Linked DNA regions of Homo sapiens: all the other regions are linked to region 3. Evidence: fine-mapped expression QTL. A gene starts in region 3. Each other region holds a variant in brackets. All regions are shown on one strand. Distances are from middle to middle.

Region 1 (5,129 bases), 50 kb after region 3:
TCTGAACTAAGCGTCGCCTTATGCCAGGAAGGCCCACAACAGGGCCCCGCCTTGGCCCAGCTTGTCCTTTGTGCCTGGAATTGCCGAGGTCCTTGCTGTCTTTATTTTTTGCTCTCAGCTCCAACAGGACCGAGGTGGCTTCCTCCTTCAGGCCAGCATTTCTCCTGTTTGTTTGTTGAGTAAAACCGTGTTATTGTTTCCTTTTCTACTTTGTTAAAGTCCAAAAACAGTCAGTGAAGAAGCCGCTGGCACTGCAGGATGCCACACCCTGGTGTGAGGCCTCATCCCTGCTCTGCCCGGAGCTGACGGGGATGCCCCAGCAGGCCCTGCCTTTCTCTGGCCGTCAGTCCCTTCATGTTTAAAGTAGAGAACGGGCTAGACAGCTGGAAAGCCACTCTCCACCCCAAATCTATGCTGCTCTGCGTGGACTTGAGATCCCGTGTCTTATCCTGCAATTAGAAACCCCCCATTGACACCTCCTGTAAAGGGAAGATGAGTGCGGAGGCACGCTGTTGAGACTCGGGACTGTCGGGAGATGGAGAAGGGCAGCCTTAAGACCCTGTTGAGGAGGGGAGTGTGGCGTGCGGGGCTGTTTCACGTGGGAAGTGTCAGGCGAAGGGCTTTGCTGTGCTGAGTCCTTAGGTCTCCAGGGTGGAGTCAGGGAAGGAGGAGAGAGAACAGCAAGGAAAACCACAAAGGAAGAGGCTCTTCTGAGCCCAAAGGGTGAGGGTGAGGAAGGCCAGGGGGTGAAGGAAGGGTGAGGCCTGCCCAGGACCCACATGCCTTAATTTGAATGTCCCTTCAGGACGGGCCCAGGGAGCCGGCAGCCCCCCAGTACCACTCCAGTAAGTGTGGGGGCCCGTGGCGGGCGGAGGCCTCGCTTTCCTGGGAGATCCCTCCTGTGCTGACGCGGAGTCACGGAGTTGGGAAGAGGCCGTTTTGAGGCCCGCATCAGACCTGGAGCCCGAGAGCCTTCCCTCCCCAGGGGGTCCCGCTAGGGGCTGTGTTTTAGAGAGTCTCCTGCACGAGCTAAGAACCGTATACCACGTTTGACCTGGAAATACCACGTATGAAATCACATTTTATTTTCATTTTTTAACCTAGTTTCGTCAGAGCTAGAAAACTTTGAACTTTGATATTCTCTCCAAAACTTCCATTTGTAAAGCTCAACACAAAGATGAGCAGCCTGGGGTTTCGGGGAGAATGTACAGACACGCAAAGCGGTCGGGCCGGCCTGTGACTCGTGGGCTCTGCAAAAGGCTTTCAGTTGTTCTCCGGGAGCCGATTCTACCGGCTTCGCCAGACCCTGCCTTTGGTGACCTTTAGAGGCTTTGATCAGGGCTAAAGCGTGCGTTGATGCTGCCCTTTTCTCTTGCTCAACGCAAGTGATTTTAAAGACGCAAGTTCATCCCCGTGACCCAGGGATTCAGCTTTATTGACCTAAGGAAATGTCTCTGTGAAAAGTATAAATCAAGCTTTTGTTTGAGCTGATTGGTTGTTTTTGAAGATAACCATGAAAGCTGTTTTTAATTTCATAAGGTTCCCCTTTAATATGAATTTTCTTGAAAGTTGCAGGAAAAAAAAGCTGACACAGTTACAGTATCTGCGGCATGGCCGAATTGCCATTTCCTTCCCTTTTTAAAATCTCACATGAGCAGTTCATTACTTTTTTACTTTCGTCTTTCAAGGCAGCGACACTCAGGCTCCCCGGCAAGGAGCTCTGGGGCTGCTGCTGTGGTAGGACCCGTCCCTTCTTCAGCTCTGGTACCCACCTCCATCCCGTCTGTAGGTGGCGTCCCATTCTAGAATGGATTAAAAGTTTGGAACGCTCTAGATGCTTAGGAAGGAGCATCCAAGGGGGAATGGCCGAGCAGCTTGCAAGCTCACAGCGATCCGTGCCTTGCCCCCTCCTGCCCTCTATACCAGTGGCCAGCGAGTTAACAGGGAAGTTGGCTTTTTTTTTTTTTTTTTTGAAGTGCAGTCTAGCTGTGTTGCCCAGGCTGGTCTGGAACTCCTGGGTTCAAGCCACCCTCCCACCTCGGCCTCCAGAGTCCTGGGGTTACAGGCATGAGCCACTGCACCCAGCAGAAACGCTCCTACACACGGGTAGCCACCCACCCAGGCCCCAGACTCCTGGACTGCTGCTGTGGGAATGGCTTTCAGGGAATGACTCCAGTGTGGACTCGAGGTTCCTCCATGCTGGCAAATGTCTGCTTTTGCAGGTGTTTTGACTGGGGGAAATGGTGAGAATACTCAGAGCTGAGTTTGAAGGTGAGGAGAGTGAGGCTTTCTGGCAGGTGTGTAAGTTGGTCCTGAGGCTGGAGAGTGAGGCTTTCTAGCAGGTGTGTAAGTTGGTCCTGAGGCTGGAGAGTGAGGCTTTCTGGCAGGTGTGTAAGTTGGTCCTGAGGCTGGAGAGTGAGGCTTTCTGGCAGGTGTGTAAGTTGGTCCTGAGGCTGGAGAGTGAGGCTTTCTGGCAGGTGTGTGAGTTGGTCCTGAGGGCGGAGAGTGAGGCTTTCTGGCAGGTGTGTGAGTTGCTCCTGAGGGCCTGTGTGCCCCATGGCTTACTGCTTCTCGGGGTGGCTGCCGTCTTGCCTGCCGGGGAAGAGCAGACAGTGTAAGGGTGTCCGTGGTGGCAGCCCCTGAGGTCAGCGTGGCTGACCCCTCTCCCTGTGGTTCATTTCTGCAGACCCCTCTCCCTCAGGGCCACAGGCCTTGGCACCTCTACCTGGGGATGACGTCAACTCCGATGATTCCGACGATATTGTCATTGCACCGTCTCTGCCCACGAAGAACTTTCCAGTTTAGGTCCCCGTCACTGTCTCCACGCCGTGATGGCAGCGCTGCCGAGGACATAGGAACCACGACTGGAAAGATAATTTATCGTGTTAGGAGAAGAACGATGATACCTACTTAACACCTCAGCATCTGCGTCGTGTCTCTTTGTGCTTTTGTTTGTGGAAGGAGACCCAAATGCCTTTACTTTATTCTCTGGGGAGGGCCAGCGGCTCGCATCCCCCTCATCTCCAGCTGCAGCTCGGATGGTGGATTTTCAGTGCCAACAGACACATCTGCCGTGAACTCGCA[G/T]ATGCCAGGGAGCCCTGTAGTGACACGTTCTCTGACAGCACCTTGCCGCCTGCCCACGACCTTGACCGTGAGGAGCTGCTATCCGCAACCAGCGCCGACACCATGCCCCCTCTTCCTGGTGACACCCTCAACAACCAGGATTTGCTCGATCTCAGCCCAGCAGGCCAGGCAGACACACCCCGCTGTGCCTTAGGAAGGTGTGAGACCGGCTTCCCCCATCCCCACAGCAAAACACGGCCTGTCCCAAGCCAGTGAGGAGCTAAAGACACCCAGGTCCCCAAATGATCTTACTCCATGCCCCACCCGCTCACACCGTCCTTTCCCGTCACCCTTGCTATCCCCTGGAGCACTGCCCTCCAGAGCTGCCCTTCCCAGGAAGGAATTTGGTTGGATTCTGTCACTGTGGAGACCAAGATTTTTTAAAATTCCCAATTACAAAAGCAGCATCACACTTGCTTCTGAGAACAGCAGGGTGATGTCTGTTCCCAAGCTGGTGGCGGGAGCCTTAGCCTGTGTGGGGCCACCCGGGGAAGAGGAGGAGAGGAGGGTGAGGAGGCAGGCTCGCCGTTCCAAGGGACAGCATAGGCTCGTGGTGGGGCGTGTTGCATCTGGTGTCTGGGACAGTCCCCGTCACCCCATGTGTGCGGCCTCTGCACTCCCAAGCTCCATGGCTGGGCTGGGCTGGGCTGGGCTGGGCTGGGCCGGGCGTGCGGAGCCTGTGGAGCCAGCAGCTGCAGAGGCCTAGGAGGGAGTTCCTGGGGGAAGCGCACAGTGTCCAGTGCCCATCTCTTGCTTGTGTGTGAGATTAGCCCTTGCTGGGGCGTCAAGAGGAAGAGCCTTAGACCTGGGCGGGCCTTCAGGGGCATCTAGACCCCTGCACAGCCCAGGCCTGGTGTCTGCATTTCCACAGCACCCCTGTGGGGACTCCTGCCGGGGCTGGCCGCTGTCTCAGGAGAGACCCAATGGTTAGAAAGCCCCTTTTTACACAGCTGACAGCTTCTCCCAAGGCTTCCGTCCACGGGGACAGGCTTAACCCCTGGGCGCCTTTTCTGCAGCATGGCGGCCTTCTGAGTCACCTAAGCTGAGCCTGGGTCATTCTCTGTGGCGGTCAGAAGGCCGATGGCCCCAACACAGTGGCTTGTGAAAGGGAGAGAGGAGGCTCTGCATGTCCACCTGCTCTATGGGAGGAGGACACAGGTGTCCCCAGCCCAGCCTGTTCTCTCCCAGTCACTCAGGGATGGGGCCACCCAAAGTGCAGGACCCGCCCCACCCTGCGGTTCGAAGCCTGGCCCCTGTCTCCACTTAGCTTCTGTTTCTGCAGTGGGTGGAAGCGAGTCAGCGGGGGGCCTGGCTTGTGTACGTGTTTTCCTTATTTGGTCTGTGGGTTGCCAAGTCCATTTTTTTTTCCACTGAACTGGCTGGTAACTTGATGGACTGTGTAACTGACACAGGCCCTCTTTAGACCCCTGCCTTCACCCCACCCGCCCGGGTCCACTCCCTGGGGCGCTGTCCCAAGCCATCCCTGCTTGCCAGCTCAAAGCTTCAGGTCCTAGGAGCCAGTCCACCTCGAAAGCCCTGAGAAAGTGAGACACCTGCACATTCGCTGGGGGAGACCCTCCGTTCTCTTGTGGCAGCTGCTCCCACTTGTTAAACCAAGCTGTTTCTGCGGGACGTGCTCACTCTTGGGAACCAGTGGCCTAGAGCTTTGGGTTACAGGCATGGAGAGGGCTTTCCTGCCTCAGGCTTGGAGGCCAATGTTCCATACATAAACCGCCATGTCCTCTGGTGCAGCTGGGCTGCTCTTTTAAAAGCCAGCATCCATCTTGAAGCTCGCTGGGTAAATGGCAATGCATTCTCAAGCCAGTGTCTTCAGCTGATGCCCAGTGTCCAGTGCTGGTCACCAGTCCCCTTTGCTGGGTACAGCCTGCCTGGCTGTTCTGTGGTCCTGGAACGCTGCAGTGTGGTTTTGTTCCATGGAGACAGTACCAAGCGGAGAGGCCTCCTTGCCCACGGCCCCAGGGCCTGGGGGCCAGGGGTTCTGGCCC
Region 2 (5,130 bases), 41 kb before region 3:
GGAAGCTGGTTCCCAAGACACTGAGTGGGGCCGCTCTCCATCAGCCGATGAGTGGACAGGCGCCTCGGATGGCTTCCTGCCGAGTTAATGGGTCACCCATTATGTCTCCACAGATCTTCCCAGGACCCTGCAGGAAGGCAGGCCAGAGCAGCCCCAAGGAACAGCCCGGGGGAGGGAAGGCAGATGGCCACCTCAAAGCCAGCCCCGAGCCCTTCCCCTCTAGGCCTGAGTGTCAAGGGCAGACCCAGCCCATGGCTTTGGGGACCTGGTGGCACTGACTCCAGCAGGAGAACCCCCGGGCTGAGCCCTGGCAGTTAGAGGAGGCCTGGACTCAGATGGGGACAGAACACTGTCTCAGCCTGATGGCGGCTAGAGGAGGAGGGTAGGGCCCCTGGTCATGTGGGTCCTGGCTCCGTGGGCCTGCTTTCCACCTGACCTCAGCAGGCAGGTCTCTCGGGCCATTCGCACACCCAGCTGCCTGGGAGCCCCAAACTGGGACTGGTGGAGGGGCCCTGCAGAGGGGAAGACTAGGGTCCAAGAAGCCCATGAAGCCATGCGCCAGGGCCAGAGCTGGCCTGCCTGGTCTGGATGGTATGTCATCCTTGTGTTACAAGTGAGGAAACTGAGGCTCAGGGAGTAACACCACCGGTTCAAGGTCTTAAAGCCGAGAAGTGGCCCCTCTGGGTTCGGAAGGCAGGCTGGGCCCTGGGGCAGCCTCTATCCCCAGCCCCTCTTCCCCAGGACCCTACGGCCCCAAGAGGCTTCACTGGCAACTCGGTCAGCCCTCTCTAGCCCCCTCCCCAGCTCCCCTTTGTCCTGTCCAGGGCTGAGCACCATCCCACAGCCCACTTCCCTACCAGGGCTGTGTGGCCCAGTGGGCCCCTAGAGGGAGACCTGGGGTCTGGATGGGGAGGGAAGTGTTTCAGGCTGAAGCTGAGCCTGGGGAAGCGGGCGGGGGTGGCTAGGCGGGCCACCCCCTCAACAGTTTTCAGACCTCAAGAAGTCACCACGAAATTCCATTCTCCTGACAGCAAAGAAATTGATTCACTCTTGCCAAAGCCTGCGGCCCCCACAAGAATGCTGTAAAGCTTCCTCCCGCTGCTTCCAGACAGGCAGCAGCATCAGGTCCCCCACTCCTCCCATTCCTGGCTACAGAGAGACGCGGGAACCCCCCCTACCCAGTTCTATGCATGTGCCCCTGCCAGGCTGGGCCATCCACCTCTGTATGGTCACTCCCTTGGTACAATATCCCCCTTGCTTTCTCTACAATGGGCACATTGCTCCCACGACCTGCTGGGTCAAAGGCACCGCAGTCAGGGGTAGCTGGGGAGCAGGAGTTGCGGGGGTGGGGCGGCTCAGGGCAGGAAGCCCCATCCCCTGGCCTGGGAACTGTGGGGAGATGGACTCACAGCATCTTGTCAGGTGGGGTGCAGGGTGGCATGGCACCCACCATCGGTGCCACTGATGTAAAGTCCAGGTACAGAGCACAACCCGTGCACATATTTGGGGGCTTGGCCATGCTTGGCTGCAGGGGATTGAGGAGGGATTGGGCCTCAAGAAACGGGGCTGGGACTAAGTCACGAGGTGCGTGAATATCAGGCGGGACTTTAACTCAGCCAGTGGAGAGCTATGGAGGGTTTTGCTCTTTGTGTGGGTGTGTGAGTGGCTATGATCCTAGTTGTCCAGCTGCTGCGTGGAGAATAAGTAAAGCAGGTAGGATAGGAGTGGGTGGGATGGGGGTGGAGGCTGCCCAAGTGATTCAGGGAAGAGATGATGGGGATGGATGAGGCTCCGTCTCTGAAACAATTCAGATATGGGAGAGCCTGAAGTCAGCGGTGTGACTGAAGCACGTGGGGTCATGGACACCCCTCAGTCCGGAGGCTGGGGCTGGGCTGGGACTCAGCTGACTTTGTGGGGGCAGCCAACCCAGTCACTGGGTCCTTTTCTCCCCGGCTCACCCTCAAGCCTCTCCAGCTGCATGGAGGCTCCAGGGCTAGGCTCTGGCTGATCGGAAGGGGTTTATGGCAGGAGGTGACGCCATGGGAGACTTGTCACTTGGGCACAGCCAGCACCATCTGCTGGGGCATCTGCTTTCGGAGGTGGTGACTGCTAATTACCTGGGGCCAGGAAGAGGCCTGGGAACCCCCATCCCCCACACCACCCAGCGGGTACAGGGGCTAGGGGTGGGGCCCCTGGGGCCCTAAGAGCAAATGGGCTACAGCGTCCTTAGCGGGGGGAGAGGGTCTGACAGTGGGGCCAGACATTTATCCAGTGAATTTTTTCAGAGCACCTACTATGTCCCAAAACCTGTTCCAGGTCTGAATGACACCAGGTCGCTGCTGTCTTGCGGCTGACATTCAGGTAGAGGTAAGGAGAGGGGCTCCAAGGGCACTTAAAGAATTTAAAATGCCATCTCAGGCGTGAACATAACTCCGAGGGGGGCAGTTTAGCCACGGTGGTGGCGGTGGTGGTCGTGGTGGTCGCAGAGACCCTGCTTAGGAGGGCACGGGAAGACAGCGCAGCCACGGGCAGAGCCGCCTCCGTCCACGCTTCCGGAGGACGTGGCGGGCAGGGGGCTCACACCCTGCTCAGGCGACCCTTGGCCACTTCCGGGCCCCTCGCCCCTCACCCTCGGCTGCCGGCGCGCATTCCTGCCGCCCCCGCTCGTGCGAGGGGCGGGCCCGGGCCCGTGGGAAGGGCCGGGGATGGGGGCCGTGTGCCGGGGAGGCGGGGTGGGGAGGGCGCACAGCTGGGCCGCATCTGGCCCGAGCGCAAGGAGACCAAATGGGACAGAAGGCGGCCTTTCATCCGGCGAGGGAAGTGGCGGCCTTCGTTTCTCCTCGCCATGGGGCGCCTGAGGATTTCGGGGAGCCAACCCTCCCGACGGAGGGCCAGGATCGAGGAAATCAGCCAGGGAGGAAGGAGTGGAATTTGGTTCTGGTGCTTTCTCGTTAGAACCTCGTGTCCCCACCTGCGGCACAGGTGGCCAAGCTCTTGCTCTGTACAAATAACGGCTCCCCTGAACCGAGCGCTCG[G/A]GAAGACCCAGGCGCCACCCCAGTTTGCAAGGCCTGCCGCGTCCCAAGGGGAGGAAGCCGTGCTCAGGAGGGGAAGCGCACAGCGAGGAAGTAGGATGTCCCCCGCGGTGCGTCGGAGCCCAGAGCCCGGGTCTCAGCACCCTGCCCGCTGCGCCGAGGGCGCGCCCCTCCCGTGCCGGGACGCCCGGTGCATCCCCGGACGGCGCTGGCCAGGCTGGGTTTCCTCTTCAGGGACACCGGCGCGGGCCGGGCCCGTCCCCAAGCCCCTCGGCGGCCCGCAGGGGCTACCCGGGGCGGGGGGGGTGCGGGGCGTGCACGTGCGCGCCGGGGGCGGGGCCGCTGCGCCCTCTGGGCAGTTCCCAGCCCCCAGCCGCGGCCCCACGTGGGTCTGCGGGCGTGGAGCGGCGACCGGCGCGAGGCCCCGCCCCCGAGCCCGGGAGCCAATGAGCGCACGGGGGCGGGACCGGGGCGGGGAGGTTTAAGAGCGCGGGACACTGGTGCTGCGCTGCTGGACTGCGCCGCCGGAGCGACGGGCTTCGGGTCGGTGCAAGGCAGGCGCACGGGGAAGGGCGCGCCGCGCGGCCGCCACCCCACCATGCTCAAGCGCTGCGGCCGGCGCCTGCTGCTGGCGCTGGCGGGCGCGCTGCTCGCCTGCCTGCTGGTGCTCACCGCCGACCCGCCGCCGCCTCCACTGCCCGCCGAGCGCGGCCGGCGCGCGCTGCGCAGCCTGGCGGGCCCCGCGGGGGCTGCCCCGGCGCCCGGGCTGGGGGCGGCGGCGGCGGCGCCCGGGGCGCTGGTCCGCGACGTGCACAGTCTGTCCGAGTACTTCAGCCTGCTCACCCGCGCGCGCAGAGATGCGGGCCCGCCGCCCGGGGCTGCCCCCCGCCCCGCCGACGGCCACCCGCGCCCCCTGGCCGAGCCGCTCGCGCCCCGAGACGTCTTCATCGCTGTCAAGACCACCAAAAAGTTCCACCGCGCGCGCCTCGACCTGCTGCTGGAGACCTGGATCTCGCGCCACAAGGAGATGGTGAGCCCCCCGCGGCCTGGACTGGCGGGCGAGCGGGGCGGGGACCCACCATCTGGTCCAGCTGGTGGCAGTGTCCCATGGGAGTCAGGCTGCATCCCCATCCAGCCACTAGGGCCATCTGTGGGCGACGCCAGTGCACCCCGGTGCACCCAGTTTGCCTGCTGGGGCCACTCTCCCGTTACAGTTGTGTTACTGTCCCCGGGGCCCCGCCTCCTGTCCAGCTCCAGAGTCCTGGATGGCTGCAGGACCCTACACCAGTCTCCAGTGCTTGGGGTTGGTGCCCTGTGATACTTCTCACCCCGTAAACATTGGAGCGCATTCATAGGGCATTATGTCCTCAAACTTCCACAAGCAAATTCTGTTCGGACCCACCCTCAGCTCAGACCCCTTCCTGGGGAGAAAGGCTCTTCCTTTAGAGAAGTGAGGGGTTCTGACCTCTGGGCCCTTTCCTCATCACAGTGTTAAGGTACGGGGAGGGAGGGAAGTCATTGCTGGTTGGTGGGTCCTGGGGAGTACATCTCAAAGAACTCCAGGTTTTGGGGTCTGTGTGGGGACCCTCCCCGCACAGTGCAGTAGTCTCTGAGGCCTGCAACCTTGGGCACAGCCCACTTCAGTTGGGCATCAGCTTCTTACACACACATAATTAAGACACACCCCACTTTGAACATTTCCCTCGAGGCCACAGCAGGACGGTTGGGCTGGGGCGGGATGGGGACAGTGTGTGGGGCTTGCAGTCGGGGACTGGGGGGGTGTCTCTGGGCTGGGAGATGCAGAGGCATTTGCTGTGAGGGTGGGGGCTCAGGGAAGACCCTGCACGCCTTCCTCCCTGCTCAAACCCCGGAGACCCAGGGCCTTCTGACCTGGCGCTGTCCTGTTTTGGGGCACTGTGGGTGGGTGGGAGCAGGGCTTGGTGAGGTCATGAGGGCGACGGGGAGGGGCAGGGTCCTCCCTGGTCCTGGCGTGGGGAAGGGGCCCTGGGAACCCCATGGCAGCCTCCTGGGAACACAGCGTCCCATTCCCAGGGGCTCAGCGGGCTGGCGGGAGGGGGCGGCGGGGGCCGTGGGTTTT
Region 3 (5,107 bases):
TAGCTGGGATTACAGGTGCGGGCCACCACGCCCAGCTAATTTTGTATTTTTAGTAGAGACGGGGTTTCACCATGTTGGCCAGGCTGGTCTCGAACTCCTGACTTTAGGTGATCCGCCCACCTAGGCCTCCCAAAGTGCTGGGACTACCAGCGTGAGCCAACGCGCCCAGCCGTGCTGGGTAACCTTGGAAAAGCAACTTCCCTGACGCTTGCATGCCCCCTGCACACACACACACACGTACATCCTTAGAACTACATGTGTGAAAAAGTTTGAAATGCACAGTTATCTTCCCTGAAATTTGGTTCCTCATTGTGAAATGAGATACTAACATTCACCCAGTTAGGTAATTGTGGAGTAAAGAAAACTCAACAACAGCACTGTGCTAAGTGCTTCACTTACTGTAAACTTGTATGATTCTACAGCAACGGTAGGAGAGTACCACTACCAGCCCATCAGATGAGGAAAATGAGGCACAGAGAGGCTAACTCATAAGGCCTTACAGCTACTGGATTGGCACAGTTTGGATTTGAACCCAAGCAGTCTGGCTCCAGATTTGAATATTGTATTGCACAGGTCCACAATTTTTTTTTTTTTTGAGGTGGAGTCTCGCTCTGATGTCCAGGCTGGAGTGCAGTGGTGTGATCTCAGCTCACTGCAACCTCCACCTCCCAGGTTCAAGCAATTCTCCTGTCTCAGCCTCCTGAGTAGCTGAGACTACAGGCACCCACGACCCCTGGCTAATTTTTGTATTTTTAGTAGAGACAGAGTTTCACCATATTGGTCAGGCTGGTCTCAAACTCCTGACCTCAAGTGATCCACCCACCCTAGACTCCCAAAGTGCTGGGATTACAGGCGTGAGCCACCATCGTGCCTGGCCCAGGTCCACAATTTCTTATCTCAAACTTTTGGGGACAAATGTTTTTTCAGAATTCAGAACTGTTCAGATTTTAGAAATGTGACATGGCACATGTACATTAAATATGAGATTACAGCAGAGTGTGACACACACCCCATAATTAAACGTATTAATAGTTATTCAGGGCCGGGTGCAGTGGCTCACGCCTGTAATCCCAGCACTTTGGGAGGTGGAGGCGGGCGGATCACGAGATCAAGAGAGCGAGACCATCCTTGTCAAGGTGGTGAAACCCGTCTCTACTAAAAATACAAAAATTAGCTGGGCGTGGTGGCACGCACCTGTAGTCCCAGCTACTCGGGTAGCTGAGGCAGGAGAATCGCTTGAACCCAGGAGGCAAAGGTTGCAGTGAGCGGAGATCGCACCACTGCACTCCAGCCTGGGCCACAGAGCAAGACTCCGTCAAAAAAAAAAAAAAAAGAAGTTATTCAGTGAAACTCACTCATGTACACCCCGTGGGATAAATAAGCACTATAAATAGCCTCAGCTCAGAGTTTTCCTCCCGGAGAGTTGAGGTTAGGACTGGTCTGGCCTTCAAATGAGTTGTGAAGGGCTTTCGGAAGTTTGTGGAATTCAGAATCACAGATAAAAGGTCGTAGATAGGCGCTGGCTCTATAATTAGATAAGAGAAGGGCAAAAAGTTTGCGAAGCCCAAGGGTGGGAGAGTGGCAAGAGGTACTTATGCACAGGGAGCACGTAGAGCAAAGCGCCCTGGGTGAGACCCTGAAAGCAAACGAAAGTTTATTATGTGTGTTTGTTTGATTGAGACAGGGTCTTGCTCTGTCGCCCAGGCTGGACTGTAGTGGTGCAATCATAGCTCACTGCAGCCTCGACCTCCTGGGCTCCAAGCGATCCTCCCACCTCAGCCTCCCGAGGAGCTGGGACTATAGGCGTGCACCAGCATGCCTGGCTTTTATTTTTATTTTATTTTTCGAGAGACGGGGTCTCGCTACATTGCCCAGGCTGGTATCAAACTCCTGGGCTCAATTGAATCTCCTGCCTTAGGCTCCCATAGTGTTGGGATTACAGACGCGAGCCACTGCGCCGGGCCGGTTTTTTTCCCCCTCTCAGCCCCCGCGCTCCGCCCCGGGAACTCCGGGAGCGCTCCTGGTCGGCCGGCCGGCGCCCGCGGACTCTGCGCACGCGCATGGTCGCCCCAGGGGGAACGCAGGTCGCTTACCCGGCTGGGTAGGTCGGCGGCCTGGTTGCCATGGCAGCGGGGTCGCGGGCCGGCGCCAGGGAAGGCCCCGAGGCTGCGGGCGGCCAGGGCTGCCCGCGGATTCCCAGACCCGGACGCCCGAGCCAGCAACCCTGAGGGGCGGCCGGGCAGCGCCGCCACCATGTTCCTGGGCACCGGGGAGCCGGCCTTGGACACGGTAAGAACGGGCGAGGGGGCGACGCCGGGCGGGCGTCCGCGAGGCCTCGGCTCGTCTCCGTCGCCCGCAGCCTCGGGGCCCCGCGCAGGGGCCGGCCCGGGGCGTGAGGACGGGGCGCACGGCCGGGTGACAGCTGCCATTATTGTTACCGCACAAGAGCGCGCTGCAGGCCCCGCGCCGCCTGCAGCCTCGCCCGCGCCCGCTTTCGCAGAGGCCGCCGCTTCCAGGAAGCTCTCCGGGACGCCGCGCCCTCGCCTCTGGGCGCCTGCGAGTCTGCGGCCCGCAGGTGACGGAGCTCACGGTGTAAGTGCCTCCGGGCACCCCCGATCTAAGGCGGGATCCACGGATCCCGTGTGGCCCCAAGCCTTCGGGGTGGGAGGGAGGCAGCCCCAGGGTCTGGGAACCCAGCTTGGTCAGAGGAGGCTTCCTGGAGGAGGGTGGGGCCCGATGTACTCCCCAGGGCGAGGGTGCATGAGCCTTAGGTTAGTTACTTTGCCCGGTAAATATCTACTGTGTGTTAGAGACACGGGAATAAGCTGCATTCCAGTGGGGGGGGGGGGGGGGGCGGAGGGACAAGGTAATAAACAGGTAATTAAGATCGTGTCAGAAAGTGAGAAGTGCTGTGCAGAAAATGAAACAGGCCCATATGGCCGGGAGCCGTGGCTCAGGCCGGTAGTCCCCCGGTAGTCCCTGCACTCTGGGAAGCCGAGATGGGAGGATCGCTTGAGGCCAAGAGTTCCAGACCAGCCTGGGCAACATCGCAAGACCCCATCTCTACAAAAAACCATCACATTAGCCGAGCTGTGGTGGTGCCTGCCTGTAGTCCCAACTACTCAGGAGGCTGAGGTGGGAGGATCGCTTGAGCCCAGGAGGTGGAAGCTACAGTGAACTGTGATCATGGCCCTCCAAGGCCTGAGAGACAGAGTGAGGCTGAGGTGGGAGGATCGCTTGAGCCCAGGAGGTGGAGGCTACAGTGAACTGTGATCATATCACGGCCCTCCAGCCTGGGCAACAGAGTGAGGCCCTGTCTCAAAAAAAAAGAAAGCCCGTTGGGACGCGGGCAAGGAGACTGAGCAGAAGATGGGCATGAGCCTGACTATGGGGAGTCCTGCTGGCCATGCAGGGAATTTGGATTTTATTGGAGAAACAGAGGAAGCCTTTGGAAGGTTTCACATCAAGGGAACTGTGCTCACCTTGCTTCCTCCTAAGGAGACCACAGGGTTCAGCACAGCTGCACCCGCAGTAGGGGCTTGGTGCTGCTGGCCAACTTGGAGCAGCTGAAGTTGCCTGCTTGTTCCCCAGGGCACCACGTCCTGTCTCATCTGGAGGGCCTGCCTGTCTACACTGGCCTTCAGTTACTGCTTCTTCATCTTTAAGAACAAAACTGCTTGTTGTGATTATAAAAATAATTTATGTATATTATTTATTTTTTATTATTTTTTTAAGACAGAGTCTCTTGGCCGGGCACGGCGGCTCATGCCTGTAATCCCAGCACTTTGGGAGGCTGAGGTGGGCAGATCATGAGGTCAGGAGATCGAGACCATGCTGGCTAACACAGTGAAACCCCATCTCTACTACAAATACAAAAAATTAGCCGGGCGTGGTGGCGGGCGCCTGTAGTCCCAGCTACTTGGGAGGCTGAGGCAGGAGAATGGCGTGAACCCAGGAGGTGGAGCTTGCAGCGAGCCAAGATCGTGCCACTGCACTCCAGCCTGGCAGCAGAGTGAGACTCTGTCTCAAAAAAAAAAAAAAAAAAAAAAGACACAGTCTCGCTTTGCCACCCAGGCTGGAGTGCAATGATGCCATCTCAGATCACTGCAGTCTCTGCCTCCCAGGTTCAAAGGATTCTCCTGCCTCAGCCTCCTCAGTAGCTGGGACTACAGGCGCCTGCCACCACACCCAGCTAATTTTTCTATTTTTAGTAGAGGTGGGGTTTCACCATGTTGGCCAGGCTGGTCTCTAACTCCTGACCTCAGGTTATCTACCTGCCTTGGCCTCCCAAAGTGCTGGGATTACAGGCGTGAGCCATTGCTCCCAGCCCTATGTAGATCTTTGATTTCTTTCAGCAATGGTTTATATTTTTCAATGTACAAAGCCTATGCTTTTGTTAAATTTATTCCTAAGTATTTTATGCTTTTTGATGTTATTGTATATTGAATTTTCTTAATTTCATTTCAGCTTATTTACTGCTAATATATACAATAATTTTTTTTTTTTTTTTGAGATGGAGTCTTGCTCTGTTGCCCAGGCTGGAGTGCAGTGGCGCGATCTCGGCTCACTGCAAGCTCCGCCTCCCGGGTTCATAGCATTCTCCTGCCTCAGCCTCCCGAGTAGCTGAGACTACAGGCGCCCGCCACCATGCCCGGCTAATTTTTTTGTATTTTTGGTAGACACGGGGTTTCACCTTGTTAGCCAGGATGGTCTCGATCTCCTGACCTCGTGATGCACCCGCCTTGGCCTCCCAAAGTGCTGGGATTACTGGCCTGAGCCACCACGTCCGGCCTTACAATAATATTTTTATATGAATCTCATATCCTGCAAACTTGCTGAACTCATTTATTATGTTTACTAGTTTTTTAGTAGATTCATTAGGATTTTCTATGTATAAAATCATGTTGTCTGTGAATAGAGATAGTTTTACTTCCTTCTTTTCAATCTGAATGTCTTTTATTTACTTTTCTCACATTAATGTCCTGGCAAAAGACTCAAGTATAATTTGAATTGAAGTGATGAGAAAGGACAGCCTTGTCTTGCTGCTGCTATTAGAAGGGAAACATTCCGTCTTCCTCTGTTAAATATTGTGTTGCCCTGGATTTTT
Region 4 (5,000 bases), 27 kb after region 3:
TTGGGTTTTCAGCAAACTCCAGACCGATATGAAGACTACCAACCTGGAAGAGATGCGGATCGCCATGGAGACATACTACGAGGAGGTGCGCCGTGCTGGGCGGCGGAGCGGAGGGCGGGCACCGAGCTGGGCGGCGGGGCGGAGGGCGGGCACCGAGCTGGGCGGCGGGGCGGAGGGCGGGCACCGTGCTGGGCGGCGGGGCGGGCACCGAGCTGGGCGGCGGGGCGGAGGGCGGGCACCGTGCTGGGTGGCGGGGCGGAGGGCGGGCACCGTGCTGGGCGGCGGGGCGGGCACCGAGCTGGGCGGCGGGGCGGGCACCGAGCTGGGCGGCGGGGCGGAGGGCGGGCACCGTGCTGGGTGGCGGGGCGGAGGGCGGGCACCGAGTGGGAGGGGACCGGCGCTGGCCCCGGGTGGTGGGCCGAGCCCAGGTGGCCCAGAGCTGTGCTCCTGGAGCCTGCTCCTGCTTCAGCCCAACGGAAAGATGAAGTGCGGCCACTTAGTTCCCGCTTCTGGCCGTAGGCAGCGGTCAGGACTGTGATGTTGGTCTTTTCAGATAAGGTCTTCTCCATGCTAGCCTTGTGTTTTCATGCATTTCAATTTGGTATTTACAGGTGCATCGTCTCCAGACCCTCTTGGCAAGTTCTGAAACCACCGGAAAGAAGTATGATGGCCGCTTGCAAGCTGTGTTTTGTGTGTTGCCTTCACGTTGTGGAAGCTCCTCTGAGAATGTGTGGCTGTCACGTGGGTGCGGCATATACTGCCCTTAGCTTGGCAGTGCTGCCAACACTGCACCTGTTCTGTTCAGGGTTAGAGTTGACACGTTTCCATTTGCAGTGTTCACAGACTCCTCATAGTGACCACGTGTTGATGGCCAACGCGTGTTCAATGCCGCCCGTGTTCGTTATAGATTCTACATCCTGCCTTCCAGCTTAGAGCTAGAAAGTGCTGTTTCAAAGCAGAGCCACCTTTTTAGGAAGACATTGCACACAAGGACAAGTTTACTTTGCCACCTAATGTTTTCCTAAATAAGTTTATCAGGAGAAACACCGAGGTTCTCCTTGTCTGGTAGATCTCCCACATCCCTTTCCCAAAGCTTCCATCTGCTTCTGGGTGGCTGATCTCTGATCATGGCTTTGGCCACGTCACTGGCCTCTGCAGCAGTTTGCTGACGTCGTGGACTGCTTTCCTTTTTCTTTACCCCTAATCCTTAAAACTGGTTGGAAAACTTTTTCTGTAAAGGACCAGATGCTAACTACAGTCGATTCTCATTATTCAGTTATAAAATGTCTGCAGGTTTCTGTAGTGTAGTGGTAATCACGTCCGCCTTACAGAGTTATAAAGTCTCCATGAACATAGAACGAGCGAATACTAAACCACTGCTCCAATGGGAGGTACAGGGCTCCTGCGAGCTTCTGCTCATAACATTTTTTTTTTTTTTTTGGCAAATGTTGCCCAGGCTGGAGTGCGGTGGTGTGATCTCAGCTCACTGCAACCTCTGCCTCCTGGGTTCAAGTGATTATCTTGCCTCTGCCTCCCAAGTATCTGGGACTGTACAGGCACATGCCACCACACCCAGATAATTTTTGTATTTTTAGTAGAGATGGGGTTTTACTATGTTGGCAAGGCTGTTCTCGAACTCCTGACCTCAGGTGATCCGCCTGCCTCAGCCTCCCAAAGTTCTAGGATTACAGGCATGAGCCACCATGCCCAGCCTGGTCACAGCATTTTCATCAGCTAGTCAATGTATAACCTGGCTAACATGTGTCTCTGTTTAAAGACACCCTGTTTAATAGTGATTGTGGATTAATTTTCATCAAACTCATGGCTGGCCTGAACGAGGCTTCTTGCACGCGCATAAGCGTCTCCACGGGGGCCCACACAGCCTTCCTGAGCTTAGAGGCACTGGACGGCACTCAGCACTGCAGTCCAGCCCACGCAAGGCAGCGTCACGAGCAAACAGCACAGAAACGTGAGAGCCACAGCGCCAGGCAGGCCACAGAAAGCACACTTGTTTTTACCTGAGCTGAGGTGAGGAGCTGAGCACCACCTGGGTCAGCCCCAGCTGGGAACGTGCGCGCCAGCGACTGGCATTTTTCATCACCTGTGCACGTGCAAGAATCCCCACAAAACCTGCATGAGTATTGATTTTCGGCTGATGGATCCATTTTAGCAGCAAGCACATTTGCAATTACGGGACCTGCAGATAATGAGGATCGACTGTACTTTACACCTCCTGGGCTAAGAGGCGAAACCCGAGCTATCCTGCAAGCACCTGGCGTAACAAGATGCCTTTCCACAGCCCTTCTAGTGATGGCATGGAAAGTATAATACTGATGGTTGAACACGGTATTTTGTTACACAGGTTTACCTTGCATAAGGATGGGGTTCCATTTTGGGTGCTAACATTTTGCTTATTTAGAGTTCAAAGTTATTACTGCCTATTCGATTTCAAATACTCACCTGCAAAAACCACTCTGAGCTCACAACCAACAGAGCAAGCTGTGATTCACCTGTCCCTCGTTTCAAGCATGTGTGAAACCAGCTTAGCAATGCAAACCTCAGTCCACGATTTGGTTGTTCCAGGCCCCTGGGGGAGAAGAAGACGGGCGCCAAAAGGCAGAAGAAGATGGGCAGTGCCCTCCTGAGC[TTGTCCCGGAG/T]TGTCCAGGAGCTCACGGAAGAGAACCAGAGCCTGAAGGAGGACCTGGACCGCGTGCTGAGCACCTCCCCAACCATCTCCAAGACACAGGGTACCTTCCTGAAAGCCACTCCAGGAGGGAGGCCAGGGAATGGCAGGGAATGGCAGGGCATGGCCACTGGGTAGGCCCAACTGAGGACAGGCACCACGAGGGCAGATGTGAACCCTTGGGCAACGCCAGTTCCCACATGTGCCAGCACCTGCCGCGGGCCACGCGATGCCCCGGGGATGGAGCCGCAAACAGAAGCTCACAGACATCCCTGGAGGAGACAATGCTGTGGGAGGGAGAGAGGAGCTGGGTCAGATGCGTGACATGTGTCAGATGGCTGTAAGTGCCATGGAGGAGGGGAGGAGGACACATTTTGGGGTGAGGCAGGTGGTGTGTGCAGCTGCAAGCAGGGTTGACAGGAAGGCACCCCCAAGACGGTGACAGCTGAGCGGGACCTGGAAGGGGCGAGATAGCCATGAAGACGGCAGCAGGCGTGGGACAGGCGGGGCAGAGCTGAGTGCCTGGGAGACACGTGGAGTGTGGCCCCTGAGGCCCAGCGGGGCGAGGCAGGGTGCCATGGGAGCCTTAGGGGTGCTGTGGGAGTGTTAGGCAGAGGGTGGAGGGGGGCCGTGCTGCTTCCCGAGGCCCCCTGGCTTCTGTGCAGAGATGGGGATGGTGGCAGACAGAGGCTTCTGCGCTTGTCTAGTCGGGCTGCTGGTGGCCTGGATGGGGGCAGCAGTGGGTGTGGTGAAAGGTGTTCAGGGTCTGGTTGCATCTTGTAGCTGGAGCTTAGGGAAACTGCAGAGAGGGTGTAGGCTCTGAGAGGGAGCAGCCAGGCTCCAAGGCTTTTTGTCCCAGCAGCTGAAAAAGACAGAGTTGCTATTTCCTGAGATGGGGGAGGCAGAGGGGCAGGTTTGGGGAAAGGCCACGGGAGGTCTGAGTGTGTGGGAGTGGGGGCCAGGCAGTGGCTGTGTGGGGGTGCGAGGCAGAGGCCTGGGCTGGAGAACTGAGCATGTGGGTCACCAGCACTTAGGTGGATCGAGTGAGGTCACCTGGAGTGAGAGGAGCAGGGGGTCAGGCCCTGAACTTGGCGGTATATGGGGGAGGCGAGGGGCAGCCAGCGAGGCAGAGGGGAGGAGTGGCTAGCGAGGGGCTGTGCATGCCAGGAAGGGGACAGGCTGAGAACCGATTGTTGGATTTGGCAGACTGACAGTCATCGGAGATCTTGATGAGAACTGTCTTAATGGCCTGGCCAGGTGGAATCGGGAAAGGATGTCACCCCGAGATGCTTGGAGGCTGTTAATACAGACATCTATCTCTTCACGATCCAAGGGGGCAGAGACTGGGCCAGCGCTGGCAAAATTCTCTGGTAGCCAGGACCTGTCGGTGTGGCTCTGCAGCCCCGCAGGCTGCTCCGGCTGCGGAAGAGGAGCCTCAGGCCATACCTGAGAAGGGTGGCCCTGCTGGCAGTGCCCACCAGGATGCCGTTTTGAAACCGCATTGCTTCCATCAGGTTATGTGGAGTGGAGCAAGCCCCGGCTGCTGAGGCGCATTGTGGAGCTGGAGAAGGTGAGCGGGCGTCTCAGTGCCACTGTCGTTGGGGACCAGGGGCCTCATGCTGTGGGGACGGGCTCACAGGGTGCGGAAGGTGGCGCTGAGCATGGCACTGGCTGTCTGCCAGGCAGCGCCACACACAGACCGCAAGGAGACTTCTTCCAGGTCTAGACAACGCTGAAGGCAGCTCTCATGCCCCTCGCTGGGCTGTGAGCTTCTGTGCGTGGCCGCAGGCAGACGCGCTTCGCACTGGAGCCCCTCACAGTCCAGCCCGCCTGTGCAGGCTGTGGGCTGTGCACTGCCCGCTGATGACCAGGCACTGCTTCCCACCACTCAAGTCGTGTTGGAATCCACAGGAAATTGTTGACCCAACTCCTGGCCAGGCAGAAATGTCGGGAAATGAACATTTCCCCACATCCCCTATGCGACTGCAAAGTAGGAATTAGGCTGATTCTATTGGAATTGGACCTTTGTTTTGTTTTTGTTTTTGTTTTTTTTTTCTTTTTTTTTGAGATGGAGTCTCACTCTGTCCCCAGGCTGGAGTGCAGTGGCGCGATCTCAGGTCACGGCAACCTCCGCCTCCCGAGTTCAAGTGATTCTCCTCCCTCAACCTCCCCAGTAGCTGGGACTACAGGTGCCCACCACCACACCCGGGTAATTTTTTGTATTTTTAGTAGAGACGGGGTTTCACCATGTTAGCCAGGATGGTCTCGATCTCCTGACCTCGTGATCCACCCACCTTGGCCTCCTGAAGTGCTGGGA
Region 5 (5,094 bases), 33 kb before region 3:
GAGTTAAGGCCGGCCCGGCGCCCCTCTCCCGCCAGCCCAGGACAAAGCTGGCGGACAATGCCTGGTGATTCATCCTCCCTCCAGGCCCTTTGTCCGCCAGGGCTTGGCAGCCGCCCAGCGAAGGCCTTTGTCCCCAACCCCGAGTGATTGAGACTTGGCTTCCCACAGCCGACCTCCTCCGCCTGTCCCTCCCGCCACCCCGCCTGTCCCCCGCCTTTCCAGCAGCCTCCAAGTGGCAGGCTGGGTGCTGTGTCAATAAGGGTGTGTGCCCTGCCAGGTGCACGGGGCGGGTCGGGAACCGGTTACCTGGCGGGCGGGCGAGGCGCACCACCTGGCTCGTGCCTCACCGCGCCTGGACGACCTTGGGTGCAGCTGTCGAGGTTGGGGAGTGAGGCCCCCATCCCCCACCCCCAGGGCGAGTGAATGCGTGAGCTCTGGCCCAGATGGCACTGAGATGGGGCACTTGAGCCCTTCTCAGCACGAGTGGGGAAACCAAGGCCCGGAGAAGGGTGGGTGTCAGTGTGACGCAGCTGCAGCTGCAGCAACTCCAGGGCGCCCCGTCCGGCCCCCACAGATGGCCCTGGGGTGGGGATGAAGGGCTGCCTGCTGAAGGCCGATTTTCTCCTTCCAGACGTTCATCTTCACTGACGGGGAAGATGAGGCCCTGGCCAGGCACACGGGTGAGCCCTGGACTTGGGGCGGGAGGGGGCCCAGGCCTCCATCCAGAGCCGAACGCTCCCCCTCCAGTCTCCCTGCCCCTCTGGGCCGAGAGGTCACCAAGGGCAGGACAGGGAGGGCAGTTTACTCATGGGGTTTGCTCCATGCCCCGCCCCACCACTCGGGCCCCCCAATTCTCATGCAAATGAAGCCCATTCAGCCCCCCGGGTCCCTTTGAGCCCAGGCAGCGGCAACAGGTGGCGGGTGCTGGGAAAAAGCTGCCTGAATGGGCGGGGGCGGGGCCGCCCTGGAAGGGGCTGGGCTGCGGGAGGGTCCACAGGCCCAAGCCCCGAGCTAGGGTGGGGGAGGCTACGGCCGCCGGGCCCAGCTTGAACTAGGGGGCTTTTCTCGAGCCCCTGGGCCCTGTGGCGTCCCCCAGGCCAGGCCCCTCTCTGGGAGCCGGCTCAGACCTACTCACAGCCGCTCCCCTGTCCACAGGCAACGTGGTCATCACAAACTGCTCGGCCGCCCACAGCCGCCAGGCGCTGTCCTGCAAGATGGCCGTGGAGTATGACCGCTTCATCGAGTCCGGCAGGAAGTGAGTGTGGCCCCGGGGGACCCCCATCTCCCTGCCCGAGCCTGGCAGCGCCCGCCCCGGCATGCCCTCCCCCGATGGCCCTGCCTTGTCCTCAGGTGGTTCTGCCACGTGGACGATGACAACTACGTCAACCTGCGGGCCCTGCTGCGGCTGCTGGCCAGCTACCCGCACACGCGGGACGTCTACGTCGGCAAGCCCAGCCTGGACAGGCCCATCCAGGCCATGGAGCGGGTCAGCGAGAACAAGGTGGTGAGTGCCTGCCCCTCCCAGTCCCCCACGCCCACGCGGAGCGCACACCCGGAGTGGGGGTGGGACCGTGAGGGGCAGCAGCGCCTGGGTCTCAGGACACCTTCTCCCTTCTCCCAGCGTCCTGTCCACTTCTGGTTTGCCACGGGCGGCGCTGGCTTCTGCATCAGCCGTGGGCTGGCTCTGAAGATGAGCCCGTGGGCCAGGTGAGTGCCCTGCACAGGTTAGGCCAGCCCGGTCCCAGGCTCCTCGCCACTGTGGGGCCTGGCTTAGTTCATCTTCCCAGCCATGGGGTGTCCCCAGCCTCCTGTGTGGCACTGCCCACTTACTTCCTATATTCCACTTCCCTCTGGGTTTCAGAGGGCAGCTGTGTTTACGGC[G/A]GCTGCCCCCAAGCCTGACCTGCTCAGAGCAGCCAGGGGGGCGATGAGCACCCCAGGCACCATCCGGCAGGACTCTTCCCTGCACCCAGATTCCCTCCACAGAGAGCCACGGAGCACAGGAGCTGTGCAGGGAGTGTGCCCTGGCTGTGGCCAGGGGAGGCAGAGGGAGCTGCAGCCCAGAGCTCTCCTCAGGGCTCCTCTCCCTGAGGAGTGCAGCGCCTTTGCCTGGTGGGGCCTCCCCAGCTCCCAGCAGATGGCTCCCGCCTCTGCTCACTGGTCTGGGCCCTTCCCTCCCGCAGCGGGGGTCACTTCATGAATACGGCTGAGCGGATCCGGCTGCCTGATGACTGCACCATCGGCTACATCGTGGAGGCCCTGCTGGGTGTGCCCCTCATCCGCAGCGGCCTCTTCCACTCCCACCTGGAGAACCTGCAGCAGGTGCCCACCTCGGAGCTCCACGAGCAGGTGCACCATCCTCCGGGCCCCGCCAGGACTCCGAGAGCACAGGAAGGGACGTGTGGCTGCCGAGAGGGGCGCAGTGGGGTGGGGCACTGTTCTAAACAGGGAGGCCAGGCAGCACTCCACTGTCAGCCAGGGGGGGTCACTCCTGCCATGAGCTCAAAGCTGTTTATGGCGGGTTGTTTTCCTGCCGTCTCTTCTCTTCACTGTGATGCGCCTACTGTGCGTATTTTGTCCACGCTGGCAATGCAGCCAGCCCCAGCTGGTCCCCAGTTTGGGACCTTATTCCTGGGGTGTGCAGGGCAGGTGTCCTTCCAGGTCCAAGGGAGGCCAGGGCAGGGCCGTTGCCTCACTCAGGGCTGTGTGGCCAGCCTGGGGCGGGGCCCAGGGATGTCGGGCCCCTCCCGGCATCACTCCGCCCGCTCCCCACAGGTGACGCTGAGCTACGGTATGTTTGAAAACAAGCGGAACGCCGTCCACGTGAAGGGGCCCTTCTCGGTGGAGGCCGACCCATCCAGGTAAGGAAACCCCGGCCCAGATGGGCTTGCGTAGGGTGGCCTAGGGGCGTCAGGGGGCCTCGTGGAGCTGCAGCAGGGTCTCTCTAAGCGGCATGACTCTACATAGAGGTGTCCCCCGGAGTCCTGCTTGCTCGGGGTGGGGCCGCCAGTGTTGTGGGACTGCAAATGGGAGCTCAGCACCTGCCTGCCACCCACGCAGACCAGCCCCTGCTCTGTTCCCACAGGTTCCGCTCCATCCACTGCCACCTGTACCCGGACACACCCTGGTGTCCCCGCACTGCCATCTTCTAGTGGCCATGGCTGAGACCCAATCCCTGGGCGCCCCTGGTATCCAAAGGGCCCAGGGACCCTGTTGCGCTGCCCTGGCCTCGGCATTCGAGGCTCCCCTAGGGCCGTGCCTGTGCGTGTGCGTGTGCGTGTGTGTGTGTGTGTACTGCATGCCCACCCGGGTAGCAGGCTGCTGGGCAGTTCTGCTCTGTGGAGGGGCGGGCACCAGCGCCACTTATGTGCCTCTGCTCCGAGGGCCAGTGGGCTGCAGGGCCTGCTTGGAGGAAGGATTTGTGTGTCGGAGGCCACTCCGAGGGCAATTCTGTTAGGATTTTTGGATCTTTCTACAGCTACGGGGCTCCGGGCTACTTTGCAGGGATGCGATGCGTAGGTGCCTTTCTCTTCCTGCTGACCACAAGCTCTGTGCTGGGGGTACCTGTGCCCTGAAGTCCTGGCCCCTGTGTCATAGCCCCAAGTACGACTCACTGAGCCATGCTCATTGCAGGGGAGGCTGGGTCTGGGGGTGCGTGACCCAATCCCCTTCCTCCTGGCCTGGACGCTGTGGCTTAAGAGTAACAGCAGCCACCGCCCAGTTCCAGTGGCCCCACGAAGCCCCCAGTGGCTGGCTGTCCAGCTGGGCAAACAGTGGCACCCCTCCCAGCTCTTCTGAGTGGGGAGTCTTCCAGGCCTCCTCAGAGGTCTTCCCTTTGCCTCCCCAGGACAGGGTGAGTCAGAGCTCAGCATTTAATCTCCTCTCCAAAGTAGAGAGCAAGTCGCCCACAGTGGGCGTGTCTGTAAATATTGTGACAGTATTTTTTTACTGTGCTGTTTTTTTTGAAAGGGGATGGGTAAAAAGTAGGGTGTTCTTGTTTTTTGCTTGGGAGGGTGGGGGTGGGGGAGGGTCTTATTTTATCTTATCTTTTCTGTGGATCAGAAAAAACAGAAGCCAAACTCGGGGTCATCTTTGTTTTTAAAGCTGAAGTGGGACTGTCTGGCACTCTGTGTATTTATGCGTTCCAGCATCTGGAACCTCCCATCCCTGCCCTCCTCCTGTGTAGCTGCCACCTCCCCGCTGGGCCCAGCATGGCTCACCTGTCCCGTGGGCTGTGTTTCTTGTTGTTTTTCTCTTTGCAAAGACATAGCTAGGAAAGCGAATGATAAGGGAAAAGTTCTCAGGGAATTGAAGTGTTGTTGCTATGGTGACGTCCTTTTGCTGTGAATAAAGGTGCTCTTTGCAGCAATCCTGGGGGTCCTGGTCTTGGCTGGAGGTGGGGCCTAAGCCCCAGGGCAGCCAGGGTCAGGAGAGGCACACAGGTGAAGGGGAGGCTTGGCCTTGGGTGCACCGCATGGAGCAGGTAGATAGGAAACGCTTAGAGACAACTATTTTGGAACGAAACCTGGCGTCACTATAGCTGCCTGCTGGTGACTACAGGTGCGGCCCACCCAGGGTCAGGGTGGTCGCTGGAGCGTGAGCCCTGTGCTTCCAGGAGGAACAGGTCTAGGATGCTGGGGGCTCTAGGTCCCAGCCAAAAGCACAACCCCAAGGCTCTGGCCTGGTCTGGCCACTGGGGAGCCCAGCCCCTGCAGGAGGGACAGTGACTCCTGTGACCGGGCCTGGGGCCTCCTTATCCAACTTCACTCCTGCCACGAGCTCACAGAGTCCACATCATCGCCTCACTTTGCAGGTGGGGAAACTGAGGCACGGAGCAGCTGATGCCCAAGGTCCAGCAGCCATGCTGGTGGGCTGGGGAGGCGCTCAGACTCCAAGCCAGGCAGGCCGTGGGTCCGGCCGCCCCACAGCTGGTAATGCTGCACCTCCCTCTCCTGTGATGTGGCCCCAGGCCCCGACCCCGCTCAGGGGTGGTGGGAAGAGTCCTGGAGAGCAGGAGCAGTGCCGGAGCCCCCACTGCAGCTGGTCCCAGCCCCTGCAGAGATCCAGACGCTTGTTTTTTAAATACAGCAGCTCTGC

Alleles and levels. Alleles are on the strand shown, and positions count from the first base shown. SD is a standard deviation of normalised expression in the study named. Not every link is listed here.
With allele G in place of T in region 1, the expression in esophagus muscle of the gene that starts at base 2,051 in region 3 is lower (moderate effect, 0.44 SD a copy in GTEx).

What was found. PIP is the estimated chance that this variant, and not a neighbour inherited with it, causes the effect.
Region 1: its variant is fine-mapped to the expression of IQCE in esophagus muscle (GTEx, PIP 0.99).
Region 2: its variant is fine-mapped to the expression of IQCE in whole blood (INTERVAL, PIP above 0.99).
Region 4: its variant is fine-mapped to the expression of IQCE in whole blood (TOPMed, PIP above 0.99).
Region 5: its variant is fine-mapped to the expression of IQCE in tibial artery (GTEx, PIP 0.95).

What each region holds. Positions count from the first base shown.
Region 1 is chr7:2,607,358-2,612,486 of GRCh38, forward strand. IQCE (IQ motif containing E) reads left to right here. Exons shown (of 22, transcript NM_152558.5): 22 at 2,687-5,129. The coding sequence ends at 2,805. Among named protein-coding and RNA genes, the nearest start is that of TTYH3, 22 kb to the right of the region's middle. RefSeq lists enhancers at 2,716-3,289, 3,290-3,863. The variant G/T (reference allele first, on the strand shown) is at 3,085.
Region 2 is chr7:2,516,232-2,521,361 of GRCh38, forward strand. LFNG (LFNG O-fucosylpeptide 3-beta-N-acetylglucosaminyltransferase) reads left to right here and starts at 3,543. Exons shown (of 8, transcript NM_001040167.2): 1 at 3,543-4,062. The coding sequence starts at 3,631. RefSeq lists silencers at 3,069-3,598, 3,609-3,718. The variant G/A (reference allele first, on the strand shown) is at 3,036.
Region 3 is chr7:2,556,929-2,562,035 of GRCh38, forward strand. It overlaps IQCE (IQ motif containing E), which reads left to right and starts at 2,051. Exons shown (of 22, transcript NM_152558.5): 1 at 2,051-2,289. The coding sequence starts at 2,254. RefSeq lists silencers at 1,933-2,442, 2,663-2,732.
Region 4 is chr7:2,583,625-2,588,624 of GRCh38, forward strand. IQCE (IQ motif containing E) reads left to right here. Exons shown (of 22, transcript NM_152558.5): 10 at 13-85; 11 at 612-661; 12 at 2,584-2,747; 13 at 4,198-4,253. Among named protein-coding and RNA genes, the nearest start is that of IQCE, 27 kb to the left of the region's middle. RefSeq lists an enhancer at 1,334-1,905. The variant TTGTCCCGGAG/T (reference allele first, on the strand shown) is at 2,648.
Region 5 is chr7:2,524,064-2,529,157 of GRCh38, forward strand. LFNG (LFNG O-fucosylpeptide 3-beta-N-acetylglucosaminyltransferase) reads left to right here. Exons shown (of 8, transcript NM_001040167.2): 2 at 632-680; 3 at 1,156-1,255; 4 at 1,351-1,504; 5 at 1,622-1,707; 6 at 2,181-2,346; 7 at 2,773-2,858; 8 at 3,083-4,366. The coding sequence ends at 3,149. It overlaps MIR4648 (microRNA 4648), which reads left to right and starts at 3,011; the gene lies at 3,011-3,082. RefSeq lists an enhancer at 4,306-5,094. The variant G/A (reference allele first, on the strand shown) is at 1,882.